Regions from separate parts of the Homo sapiens genome. Here all the other regions are linked to region 1. Evidence: fine-mapped expression QTL. A gene starts in region 1. Each other region holds a variant in brackets. All regions are shown on one strand. Distances are between the middles of the regions.

Region 1 (4,353 bases):
ACAACAAAAAACAATAATCTGTGTTTAAAATGGCATGTGAAAGGGGTTCCTCGTATTGGGTTGTTTTAATGTTTGGTATCTCTTTGACTACACAATGCAACACTTACAGTAAAAGTACAACCTTTAAAAGTATAAAAAGCCCATCTCCCCAATGACTTTATAAGTCTACCATTTTACATTTTAAGGAGTTTGCCCCTGTTCTTACATTTAGTAACAACATGGCCTTCCTCATTCTCTTTCAAACATTCCTGGAATTGATTTTCTGAATGCACTTAATCCTTTGGTCACAAGCTCAATGAAAAGGAAAAAAAAATGCACTTAAATATTCCCTGCATCAATTGAAACTGAAGCCCTCAGACAGCTGGAGGAAAAGGGGGGGAAGGAAAAAAAAGAACAAAATAAACAGGAAGTGAAAGTGACAAGAGAATCACACTGCTTACTTTTTGGCTTTTAAGCCTTTAACAATCTGAAAGTAATCTTAACAGTGTGGGGGAGGAACAAACGAAAACTCAGAAACAGCTCCCTCCCCAACCACACACACCCTGAAGGCTTTGGCTGTCTTTCCTCATCTGGGTCAGAGTTTGCACTCCCGGGCTCCTGTCAGGCTCCATCGCAATCCTCCTTAAACTCAGCGCTTTCCCCTTCTTCTAGTCTTTTTTGGTGCACATCCACTCTCTACTCCTCCAAGCCACGGTTCTCCACAGACCACAATACAACGGTGTCAGGCCAACTGTTACTCACCAGCACACTCATGATTCACCCGTCTCTCGGGTGTCTGAACAAAACGCGAGTTTTTCTTCCTTCTGGGAAAGGGAGGTGCTCGCAGATTTCAGGATGGAAATTTCACTCTCCTGCGACCGTCCACACCCGGGACGGTCACTGCCCCGTTCATCGTTTCCGGGCTCCTTAGGGGCTCGGGCACTGATCACCAAGAGGGAACCGGCCCCGCGGCGCAGCGGCTTTGGAAACTTGCTCCTGACCGAGAGCTGCAGCCCAGAAACTGCCTCCCAGGTTATTCTGCTGCTCCCAGGCCGAAGTCTGGTGGTCCCCGCACCCTATCTCGGCCCGGGTGAGGCACCCCCAGCCGCAGCGCTCTGGCTTCACCTTCCCCGGGCCCGGAGTCTTGACCTCAGCCCAGGCCTCCGTGACCCACGTCGGCCGCCCGGCCACCACCTGTCGGGACCGCCCGGCGCGCGGAGCCCGGCAGCCAGCAAAACGCAGTTGACTGCTCGGCCGCTCGGCTTTTGCTCCCGCCAAAGTTGTCCAACGCAAACTTTGCACCAGCCTACCCCGAACCCCCACAGCCCGGCACCCGCTCTTACCTGGGGCGGAGGCGGCAGCGGCCACGGGCGCGCTGGGCGCCAGGTGCCAGGGGTCGGCAGCAGCCGCGTGCGCCACGGCCAGAGGCCCCTCTGGAGCATCCTCCCGCCCCAGGCGCGCGGCTCCCGCAGGCGTCAGCGGCGCATCCTCCCTCAGCCGGGCTCCTCGTCAGCGCCTGGTGGCTCCGAGCTGTGGGCGCTCCCGCCCCGCCTGCTCGCTCAGCGCGCCGCGGCTCCAGCTTGGGCGGGCTCACGGGAGGGTGTGTCCCTGTTTCCACTTGTCGGCTCTCTACGCATCCGGGCGCAGGGCTGTTTTCTTTCCTCCGACCAAAAAAAAAAAAAAAAAAGAGAGCGAGAGAGCGGGAGCCCGAGAGCGGGAGCCCGAGGTCGAGGGCCCCCTCCTTCTCCAGCAGAAGACCCTCTGGAATGAACAGCAGCAGGCGACGCACACCTTGCGAGCTCTAGATTTCAAAACTCGCTGTTAATTCCCGGTGCTGCGTGCTCTGAGCGCCGTCTTCGCCATCCAACCCAGACGGGGATGAGACGAAAACAGCGTCCGGCATCTGGAGGGGGCAGGGCCGCTCAGGAAGTTTGTTTTCCCCACCGAGCTTGGAGAAGACGGATTGAAGCGGGTCGGCCGAGGCCTCTCCCACCTCCACAACCTCCAAGGCCTCTGCCCCGGGCTGCGGTGCCGGGCCCCTGCTCGCTGGCGAGTGCGGTGTGAGGCGGGCAGCCCGGGCCTACCCCTGCGGAGGTTTGTAGTTCACGGTATAGGGGCCCAAACCCGAGTTTTTTGGGAAAGTATCTCCCACAGAATTGGCTTCTCTTTTGAAGCACGTTTTTAATTGAAGAAGCTTCGGAACCGGTATTGAGTTCTTCTAACTACTGGGAAATCGGATGCTTTGTTTTGAGACTACTTATTTTTGAAAGCAAACCAAAGGCATTAAAGAGCAACCTAAACCAATTACAGTAGGGTTGTTAGATAAAATATAGGATGCCCAGTTAAACTTGAATTTTAGATACAAATAGTGAAGTATGTCCCAAATATTGCATGGGTCACATTTATTATTTTAAAAATGAAATATCTGGGATATACTAAATTATTTGGTGTTTATCTGAATTCAAATTTAACTGGGCACTCCGCATTTTTATCTCCTGAATCTGCAAGAGGGTTCAGTTAATGAATCAAAATTGGCAAACCTGCAATAAGTGGCAAATCACTCCTGGCGGTAATCTCCTTTCCTTATTGAAAAGGGAAAGAATCACAAGTTTCTACTATAGTAAAAACTTTATCACTATTAAAGGCTGATTCACCTGTGTTAACTAGCATGTCTTTCAAAATACAGTTGCCCCAGATGGAGAGTGACACATGAAACTTTAAGTTCATATGGGAAGGTAAATTACCTTACCTGAATCTTTTCCTCCTATTAGCTAGTGCTCCAAGTGAAAGAAGCGTGTATTTTTGTTTTTTTGTTGTGAAGGGTTCTTGTTTAATACAACTGAAAAGAATGCCTATACAAAGAATTGACATGAAAAAGCATTGATTCAACACTCATGAGCTAGGTTCTGAAAGGTGTAAAAAAATTACCTGAACATTTTTAGAAATTGGAAACTACAACTAAAACTGATAAAAATCCCTATTAACATTTGTGAAGAATCTTGATAATGTGTCCTGAATTGGTGGGTTCTTGGTCTCACTGACTTCAAGAATGAAGCCGCGGACCCTGGTGGTGAGTGTTACAGTTCTTAAAGGTAGCGTGTCCGGAGTTTGTTCTTTCTGATGTTCGGACATGTTTGGAGTTTCTTCCTCCTGGTGGGTTCAGTGGTTTCGCTGGCTTCAGGAGTGAAGCTGCAGACCTTGGCAGTGAGTGTTACAGCTCTTAAGGTGGCGCGTCCGGAGTTGTTCATTCCTCCCAGTGGGTTCGGGTCTCACTGGCCTCAGAAATGAAGCTGCAAACCTTCACGGTGAGTGTTACAGATCATAAAGGCAGTGCAGACCCAAAGAGTGAGCAGCAGCAAGATTTATTGCAAACAACAAAAGAACAAAGCTTCTAGAGCGTGGCACGGGACCCAGACAGGTTGCCACTGCTGGCTCTGGCAGCCTGCTTTTATTCCCCCATCTGGCCCCACCCACATCCTGCTGATTGGTCCATTTTACAGAGCGCTGATTGGTCCGTTTTGACAGGGTGCTGATTGATGTGTCTACAATCCCTGAGCTAGATACAGAGTGCTGATTGGTGTATTTACAATCCTTTAACTGGATATAAAGGTTCCCCAAGTCCCCACTAGATTAGCTAGACACGGAGCACTGATTGGTGCATTTACAAACCTTGAGCTAGACACAGGGTGCTGATTGGTGTGTTTACAATCCTTTAGCTAGACATAAAGGTTCTCCAAGTCCCCAGGAGATTAGCTAGATACAGAGTGCTGATTGGTGCATCCACGAACCCTGAGCTAGACACAGAGCACTGATTGGTGCATTTACAAACCTTTAGCTAGACAGAGTGCTGATTGGTGCATTTACAATCCTCTAACTAGACATAAAAGTTCTCCAAGTCCCCACCCCTCTCAGGAGCCCAGTTGGCTTCCCCTAGTGGATGCCATGCCAGGGTTGCGGGCTGAGCTGCTTGCCAGTCCTGCGCTCGTGCCTCGTGCCTGCACTCAGCAGCCCTTGGGCAGTCAATGGGACTGGACGCCGCTGAGGCAGGGGCGGTGCCCCTCAGGGAGGCTAGGGCCTAGCAGAAGCCCACCGCGGGGGGACTTGCACATGGCGGGCTGCAGATCCGAGCCCTGCCCCATGGGGAGGTGGCTGAGGCCTGGTGAGAATTTGAGCGTGGCGCGGGCCGGCTGGCAGTGCTGGGGGACCTGACGCCCCCCTCTGCAGCTGCTGGCCCAGGTGCTAAGCCCTTCACTGCCCGGGCCGGGGGTGCCGGCCGCCCTCCGAGTGCGGGGCCACGGAGCCCACGCCCACCCGGAACTCGCGCTGTCCCGCAAGGCCACATGCAGCCCCGGTTCCCACCCGCGTCTCTCCCTC
Region 2 (4,000 bases), 73 kb before region 1:
TGCTTTAAAAATGAAAATGTCCAAGGACCCCTTTTCCTTTCTATCTGCCTAAAATAATTTAATAACTTCTACCACACAATGAATAAATAATGGCATCTTCATCAGATGGAATACAGTAACAATGCAACAACATGATTGAATCTCACAAAGTTAAGCAAAAAAGACAGACACAAAAGAGTATATGAGATTCCATTCATATAAATTTGAAAAAGAGGCAACAGTAATCTACAGTGTTGGAAGTCACAATGGTGGTAACACTGCTGGGCTTAGGTAGTGACTAAAACGGAGCATGGAGACACTTCTTTTTTTTTTTTTTTTTTCTGAGACAGAGTTTCGCTCTTGTTGCCCAGGCTGGAGTGCAGTGGCGCAATCTCAGCTCACTGCAACCTCCGCCTCCCAGGTTCAAGCGATTCTCCTGCCTCAGCCTTCCTGAGTAGCTGGGATTACAGGCACGCGCCACCACGCCCAGCTAATTTTGTATTTTTAGTAGAGATGGGGTTTCTCCATGTTAGTCAGGCTGGTCTCGAACTCCCGACCTCAGATGATCCACCCACCTCGGCCTCCCCAAGTGCTGGGATTACAGGCATGAGCCACCGTGCCTGGCCTGCATGGAGACACTTCTAAGGTGCTGACAGCATTCTGTTTTTTGTCTGGATTCTAACTGCATGGCATGATCACTCATTAAACTTATGGACTATACATTTTCTATATGAATGTTATTCTTCAAGATTCTCAGCTAAATCTGGACTGGACCTCTGAAATGAGATTTAAATTCTCCTTGGTGAGATTTCTTTATAATAATAAGAGTTAGGACAGGAATAATACAATGAAAGTACAGCGTGATAATAAAAAGAATAAATAAAGTGTAATAGAGCCCCAGAGAAAGAAATAATTTAGGAAGAAAAGCTGTACATGGGCGGGATGGTGGGGGTGGGGGTGGTGTCTCTTAGATAAGAACATATACCAATTTTTTTCCTAATCTAAGCCAATTATTGTCAAGCACGGTCTCAAAGGAAGAGAATCTACATGGCGGTCTAGCCAGATGGTGCTAACAAAGTTGTCTTCCTTGCTTTGATGCCTGGGTGTCTGAGATGATAGAAGGCTGAGAGCCACATGGGGTAGCACAGTTGGCAACTCTATTCAAGTCGTGCAAATCAACACATAAAATGCTTTACATTTATTCTACTTCAGGCATATTTAGTGATGTACTTATAGTTTCATTTAAAAATTAATTAAAGGCTGAGTGCAGTGGCTCATGCCTGTAATCCCAGCACTTTGGGAGGCCGAGGCATGCAGATTATGAGGTCAGGAGATCGAGACCATCCTGGCTAACACTGTGAAACCTTGTCTCTACTAAAAATACAAAAAAAATTAGCTGGGCGTGGTGGTGCATGCCTGTAGTCCCAGCTACTCAGGAGGCTGAGGCAGGACAATGGCGTGAACCCGGGAGGCGGAGCTTACAGTGAGCCGAGATCGCGCCACTGCACTCCAGCCCGGGCGACAGACCGAGACTTTGTCTCAAAAAAAAAATAATAATAATTCATTATAAAATATTATGTTCTATCCAAATACACGCAAAACAAAAGACTTCATCTGAAAACTGGAATGGTTTAAATTTTATTTTTTCAGTAGGTATTTCTTCACTTCTGTCGCTTCTGTTATAAATTTATAGTCATACATTTCATTTTGGATCCCTTCCTATAATACAATGTATGTATTTCTATCACATGTCACCTCCTTACATCTCTACTTTCTAACCTCACACCTTCTTACCTATATTGTAGTTTCATAATCATTATTTTGGCATATCAGCCTCAGGGCTTGACATTCACTTGGCCATTCCACCCTGACACCTATCAAGATAGTGCTGATATAAAAATTGGCAATGACAGGGCAGGTGTGGTGGCTCATGCCTGTAATCCCAGCACTTTGGGAGGCCGAGGCAGGCGGATCACTGGAGGTCAGGAGTTCGAGATCAGCCTGGCCAACATGGCGAAACCCTGTCTCTACTAAAAATACAAAAATAAGCCAGGCATGGTGGTGTGCATCTATAGTCCCAGCTACTTGGGAGGCTGAGGCAAGAGAATCACTTGAACCGGGAGGTGGAGGTTGCAGTGAATCAAGATCGCGCCATTGCACTCCAGCCTGGGCAACAGAGTGAGACTCCACCTTAAAAAAAAAAAAAAAAAAGCAATGACAGAAGACATAAAAGGGATAAAAAATTTAAAAACTAAAAAATCATCACCACTTTAACCAGCACCCACAATCTCATTCGAGACACTGAGCTGGTACCGCCTAGGTAATCTGCTCCCAAATTCCTGCCCCACATAAACTGTGAGAGCAATAAATTATTACTGCTGTCTTAAACCACTAAATTTTAGAGAGATTTGTTATGCAACAATAAATG[G/A]TAAGTCTAAAATTCAGACTTCTCACTATTTTAGATTAGATTTCTCTAGTTGAAAAAAGCAAGATTTTACTTTATGCATACTCTGAACCAGCGTTCAGCAAACCATGGCCCATGAGCTAAGATTTTTTTTAATCTTTTCAAAACACTGTTTAAGAAAAAGAAGAATATGAAACAGATACATATGTGGTCAGAAAACCTAAAATATTTACTATCTGGCCCTTCACAGAGAAAGTACACTGACCTCTGCTGTAAATAAATTTCAATAATGGAGGGATGTATTATTTCAGTTTTGTTCTTTGGATCTTAGTGCTCCTTAATAACATTTATCTAGGCTGAGATTCGGACCTCTTCAAAGAGGGTGTGGTTATTGGCTACATGAGAAATACACAAGCATCAGCGCCAAAGAGCCAGAGGTGGGCTGTGAAAGGGGCCTGCCGTTTGTCAGCAGTGTAAACAGGACCAAGCTGTTCTCTAGACCAGCCCTCTTGGTGGGAGGAAACCAGCCAGAAGACTGGGCTGGAGCTGCCTGAGAAACAGCCTGCAGGTGGGGAGAGAAAGGTCTGAGAGTGCTGCTTAAGTTGATCTGTGAGGACCCCTGGGCTGAATAAAGGAAGGTGAAACAGAACTGGAAGGACAGTACCGATCTACTGTTGCCACCATGCATTGTCTCCCCAGGTCCTGCACTGACAGAGCCTAAAGCTGCACAGCTGGTAAAGGAGAAATGTTGACAGAGTCCAACTCCAATATCACAAAGCAGGGCAAAGAACTATAGATTTGGGGCTGACGGATAATAAATTAATAACTGAAACTATACTTCCTCTTTTTTTCCTTACTGCACTTTGCACTGCACTTTTTAAAGGAAAATCCTGCGAACATGTATTGTGTCCAAAGCATATATTTAATATTTACCACAATATTTAGTACATATGCCACAGGCACTCAATTTCTATTATTTATTTTCTGAATAAAAAAGAGCTATGTGAAGGAGTTTCACATTCCTATCTAGTTATCTGATGTTGGGAGATGAAAAATAAAAGAGGTGTGATAGTTGAAAAGAAAAACAGATTCCTAGAGTCACAAAACATGAGAGATGAGTAAAGCTCATCAACTAGAAATGTGTTGACATCAGAAGCCACAAATCAAGTGCCCGTGTGTAGTGTGGTGTTAAACATCACAACAAACAGAACTGTACAGATTGTGTGCATACTCAGTTTCTAATTGAGCGGAAATTATTTATATAATAACTTGCTTCCTCTGAAAGATTATCCTCTATGGCAAATTATACTAGCTTGATCTCATCTGAGTTGCCACTGACTTCTGTCCAGAAATTGAGTATCTAGGCAGAAAAGGTGAAAAAGAGAATAAACTATCATATAAAGAATCAAAAAGAATTCTGTATGTTGTCAGGTCTGCGAAATGGTGAAGCTCAGGGACTCTTCAAATAATGAGTCAGCTTGTATAATAGGAAGTCCAGGAACGGCAGTACATTTAATGCAAGAATAAAAAAACAATTTTGCAGGCCAGGCGCAGTGGCTCACGCCTGTAATCCCAGCACTTTGGGAGGCTGAGGCGGGTGGGTCACCTGATGTTGGG
Region 3 (4,000 bases), 83 kb before region 1:
ACAAAGCCTCAATTTTTTTATCTTTGCCCCTCTACTGAACATGACAAAGACCTTCACATTTTCTAAGAATCCACTGAATATAATGTACCTAATTTTTTTTTAATCGGGCAGCCTCCGAACCAGAATAGGTTCAGCGAGGCTCCCCCAAATCTTGTTTAACATTTTTTTACTCGTTTTAACACAAATTTGTTTAAAATGTCTTAGAGCAAATAGTTTATTTTCCAACATGTTTTACAGCTTTAGTGTTTGTATTTGTTTCCTAGGGCTGCCGTAGCAATGTACTACAGACTGGATGGCTTAAAAACAAGCATCAGTTATTTATAAAATCAGGTGCAGTGGCTCATGCCTGTAATCCCAGCACTTTGGGAGGCTGAGGTGGGCGGATCACCTGAGGTCAGGAGTTCTACACCACCCTGGCCAACGTGGTGAAATCCCATCTCTACTAAAAATACAAAATTAGCTGGGCATGGTGATGCATGCCTGTAATCCCACCTACTCAGGAGGCTGAGGCAGGAGAATCACTTGAATGTGGGAGGCGGAGGTTGCAGTGAGCCAAGATTGCGCCATTGCACTCCAGCCTGGGAGACGAGAGTGGAACTCTGTCTCAAAAATATAAATAAATAAAAATAAAAAAGTAAAATAAGGCCAGGCATGGTGGCTTATCCCTGTAATCCCAGCACTTTGGGAGGCTGAGGCAGGTGGATCACTTGAGGTCAGGAGTTGGAGACCAGCCTGGCCAACATACTGAAACCCCGTCCTTGCTAAAAATACAAAAATTAGCTGGGTGTGGTAGTGCACACCTGTAATCCCAGCTACTCAGGAGGCTGAGGCAGGAGAATTGCTTGAATCCGGAGGCAGAAGTTGCCGTGAGCCAAGATTGCGCCATTGTACTCCAGCCTGGGCGACAGGGAAACTCCATCTCAAAAATAAAAGAAAATAAGTCTCACCTACTCAGTCAAGTTTGAATAATATTTTTTCTCTTGGATGTTTAAAAAAATGGTAAGTTGTTTCCCGTATTAAAATCTAGCTGAGAGTGGCCGGGTGCGGTGGCTCACGTCTGTAATCCCAGCACTTTGGGAGGCCAAGGTGGGCGGATCACCAGGTCAGGAGTTTGAGACAAGCCTGGCCAACACAGTGAAACCCCGTCTCTATTAAAAATACAAAAAATTACGCCATTGCACTCCAGCCCGGGTGATGGTGCAAGACTCCAACTCAAAAAAAAAAAAAAAAAAAATCTAGCTGAGAGTACTGTATATCAATAACTCTACTACATATCATTTAACCAAAAAACAATATGTCAGGGAGTATGACAAAAAGAACAGTTAAAAAAAAAATTTCAGTCTTCATCTCTTTAAAGTAGAAATAGCAGCTTTTTGTGATCCAGCCTCCTATTCTAGAAGCATTAGGAAAATGTCAAGTATCAAGTAGAAAATATAGCCTAAAAAGAAGTTGAGCTCAAGCAGAAAATAAAAAAGATGCAGCAGCCTGATTCAAAAAGGAAACAACTTTTTAACCTGGGGTGAAGAAAAAATACTGATACATAATGAACAGCAGGGACTAGCATAATTTGCCTAATGACTATAAATCAGAGGATAGCAGTTTAAGATTTCTTAGTATAAAAGCGACAGCTAACACACTGATACAGAAAAATAAATAAAAACAATTACTTCTAAATATAAGCCTTTTAAGGACAACTTTAATTACCCTGCCACAAAAGCACCATATCTGACAATAATCTCAGTATGAGGCTTTCGAAAATAATATGGTGCTACGATTTGCCCTTTCCATATCCATGGGCAAGAACTCCATTATTCTTGCTGTTTCAGGGCTCACTCAGTAGTATTCCACAGATATCATTAAATCATGTAATTTACTTTAAAAAGATTGAAGACAGAAGCTGAAACCCGGGTAAGAAAAAGCAACAGACTTGGTTCATAATATTTGCTTGTCAAAAACTATCCCCTTGAAAAGATAAATTCTTATCACCACTAAAGATCTTCAAAATCATATGTTTCAGGATCCAAAAACAACTCCAAAAATGCA[G/A]TCACAGTATTTTGTGAAATCAATACAATTATCTATTTTCCTGAGCCAAAGATAATTTCTTTAGCTATGCATCTAGACCATAGAATTTTGTATACAGACATAAACTATTTAAATGAATACATCTATTTATAGTCACCACTTTTATATAATGCAGAAGTACTTGAAGATCTTTTCGTGACAAAGGTAGTAATTCCAAACTGGGAAACAAATGGGAACTACATGAAGGTAGTAACACATCTGAATTTCTAAAGCACAGAATTCTAAGTTGCTACACCCTCTGTTGTAATGAATATGAAATCAGAAGGTTCCTTCACAGGAGGTTTGAATACACAGAGAACTGACAAATGAAATGGCAGTATACAATGCCTGAAAATACAGGCATACTTCATTTTATTGTGCTTCACTTGATCACATTTCACAAATACTGCCTTTTGTACAAATTGAAGGGCTGTGGTAACCCTGCTTCTAAGCCAGTCTATAAGCACCATTTTTTCTTAAAGCATGTGCTCACTTTGTCTCTGTCACATCTTAGTAATCCTCACAATATTTCAAACTATCATTACTATTACATCTGTTATGGTGATCTGTGATCTTTGATGTTACTATTGTAATTATTTTGGGGCACCAGGAAACATGGTCGTATAGGATGGGGAACTTAATTAATTAATATTGTATGTGTTAGGCCGGGTGCGGTGACTCACGCCTGTAATCCCAGCACTTTGGGAGGCTGAGGCAGGCGGATCACGAGGTCAGGAGATCGAGACCATCCTGGCTAACATGGTGAAAACCCGTCTCTACTAAAAAAAAAAAAAAAAAATACAAAAAGTAGCCGGGTGTTATGGCGGGCGCCCATAGTCCCAGCTACTCAGGAGGCTGAGGCAGGAGAATGGCGTGAACCCGGGAGGCGAAGCTTGCAGTGAGCCAACATCACGCCAGCCGGGGCGACAGAGTGAGACTCCTCTAAACAAAAAAAACACTGTATGTGTTCTGACTGCTCTGCCAACCTTTCCCTTCCCATCTCCCTCTCCTGGGGCCTCCCTATTCCCTAAGGACAATATTGATATTAGGCCAACTAATAAGACTACAATGGTCCCTAAGTGTTAAAATGAAAGGAAGAGTGGCATATCTCTTACTTTAAATCAAAATCTAGAAATAATTAAGCTTAGTGAGGAAGGCACGTCAAAAGCTGAGGTAGACTGAAAGCTAAACTTCTTGTACCAGTTAACCAGGTAGTGAATGCAAAAGAGAAATTCTTGAAGGAAGTTAAATGTGCTACTCCAGTGAACACACGAATGATTAGAAAGTGAAATAGCCTTATTGCTGATATGGAAACATGATAAGTGTTAGTGGTCTGGATATCAAACCAGTCACAACATTCCCTTAATCCAAAGCCTAAGCCAGAGCAAGGTCTAACTCTCTTCAATTCTGTAAAGTCTGAGAGAAATGAGAGAACTGTAGGAAAAAAGTTGAAAGCTAGTAGAGGTTGGTATATGAGGTTTAATGACAGAGGCCATCTCTATAACATAAAAGTGCAAGGTGAAGCAACAAGTACTGATGTAGAAGTTGGAGCAAGTTATCCAGAAGATCTAGCTAAGATCATTGATGAAGGTGGCTACACTAAACAACAGATTTTCAGATTCCAATACTGCCTTGCATTGGAAGACGATGCCATCTAGGACTTTCATAGCTAGAGAGGAAAAGTCAATGCCTGGTGTCAGGCCTCTGAGCCCAAGCTAAGCCATCATATCCCCTGTGACCTGCACATATACATCCAGATGGCCTGAAGCAACTGAAGAACCACAAAAGATGACATTCCACCATTGTGATCTGTTCTTGCCCCACCCTAACTGATCAACTGACCTTATGACAATACACCCTCCCGCCCTTGCGATAATGCACTTTGAGATATTCCCCTGCCCTTAAGAAGGTACTTTGTAATATTCTCCCTGCCCTTGAG

Which allele goes with the higher level. Alleles are on the strand shown, and positions count from the first base shown. SD is a standard deviation of normalised expression in the study named. Not every link is listed here.
In carriers of allele A in region 2, the expression in sigmoid colon of the gene that starts at base 1,513 in region 1 tends to be higher than with G alone (small effect, 0.22 SD a copy in GTEx).

What was found. PIP is the estimated chance that this variant, and not a neighbour inherited with it, causes the effect.
Region 2: its variant is the best candidate, but not a certain one, in a credible set for the expression of MCUB in sigmoid colon (GTEx, PIP 0.53).
Region 3: its variant is the best candidate, but not a certain one, in a credible set for the expression of MCUB in whole blood (INTERVAL, PIP 0.69).

What each region holds. Positions count from the first base shown.
Region 1 is chr4:109,557,406-109,561,758 of GRCh38, reverse strand. MCUB (mitochondrial calcium uniporter dominant negative subunit beta) reads right to left here and starts at 1,513. Exons shown (of 8, transcript NM_017918.5): 1 at 1,323-1,513. The coding sequence starts at 1,421. RefSeq lists an enhancer at 627-826 and a silencer at 1,247-1,566.
Region 2 is chr4:109,630,806-109,634,805 of GRCh38, reverse strand. All of the region lies in intron 1 of MCUB (mitochondrial calcium uniporter dominant negative subunit beta), which reads right to left. Among named protein-coding and RNA genes, the nearest start is that of CASP6, 71 kb to the left of the region's middle. The variant G/A (reference allele first, on the strand shown) is at 2,408.
Region 3 is chr4:109,640,128-109,644,127 of GRCh38, reverse strand. The region is part of intron 1 of MCUB (mitochondrial calcium uniporter dominant negative subunit beta); the gene reads right to left. Among named protein-coding and RNA genes, the nearest start is that of CASP6, 61 kb to the left of the region's middle. The variant G/A (reference allele first, on the strand shown) is at 2,044.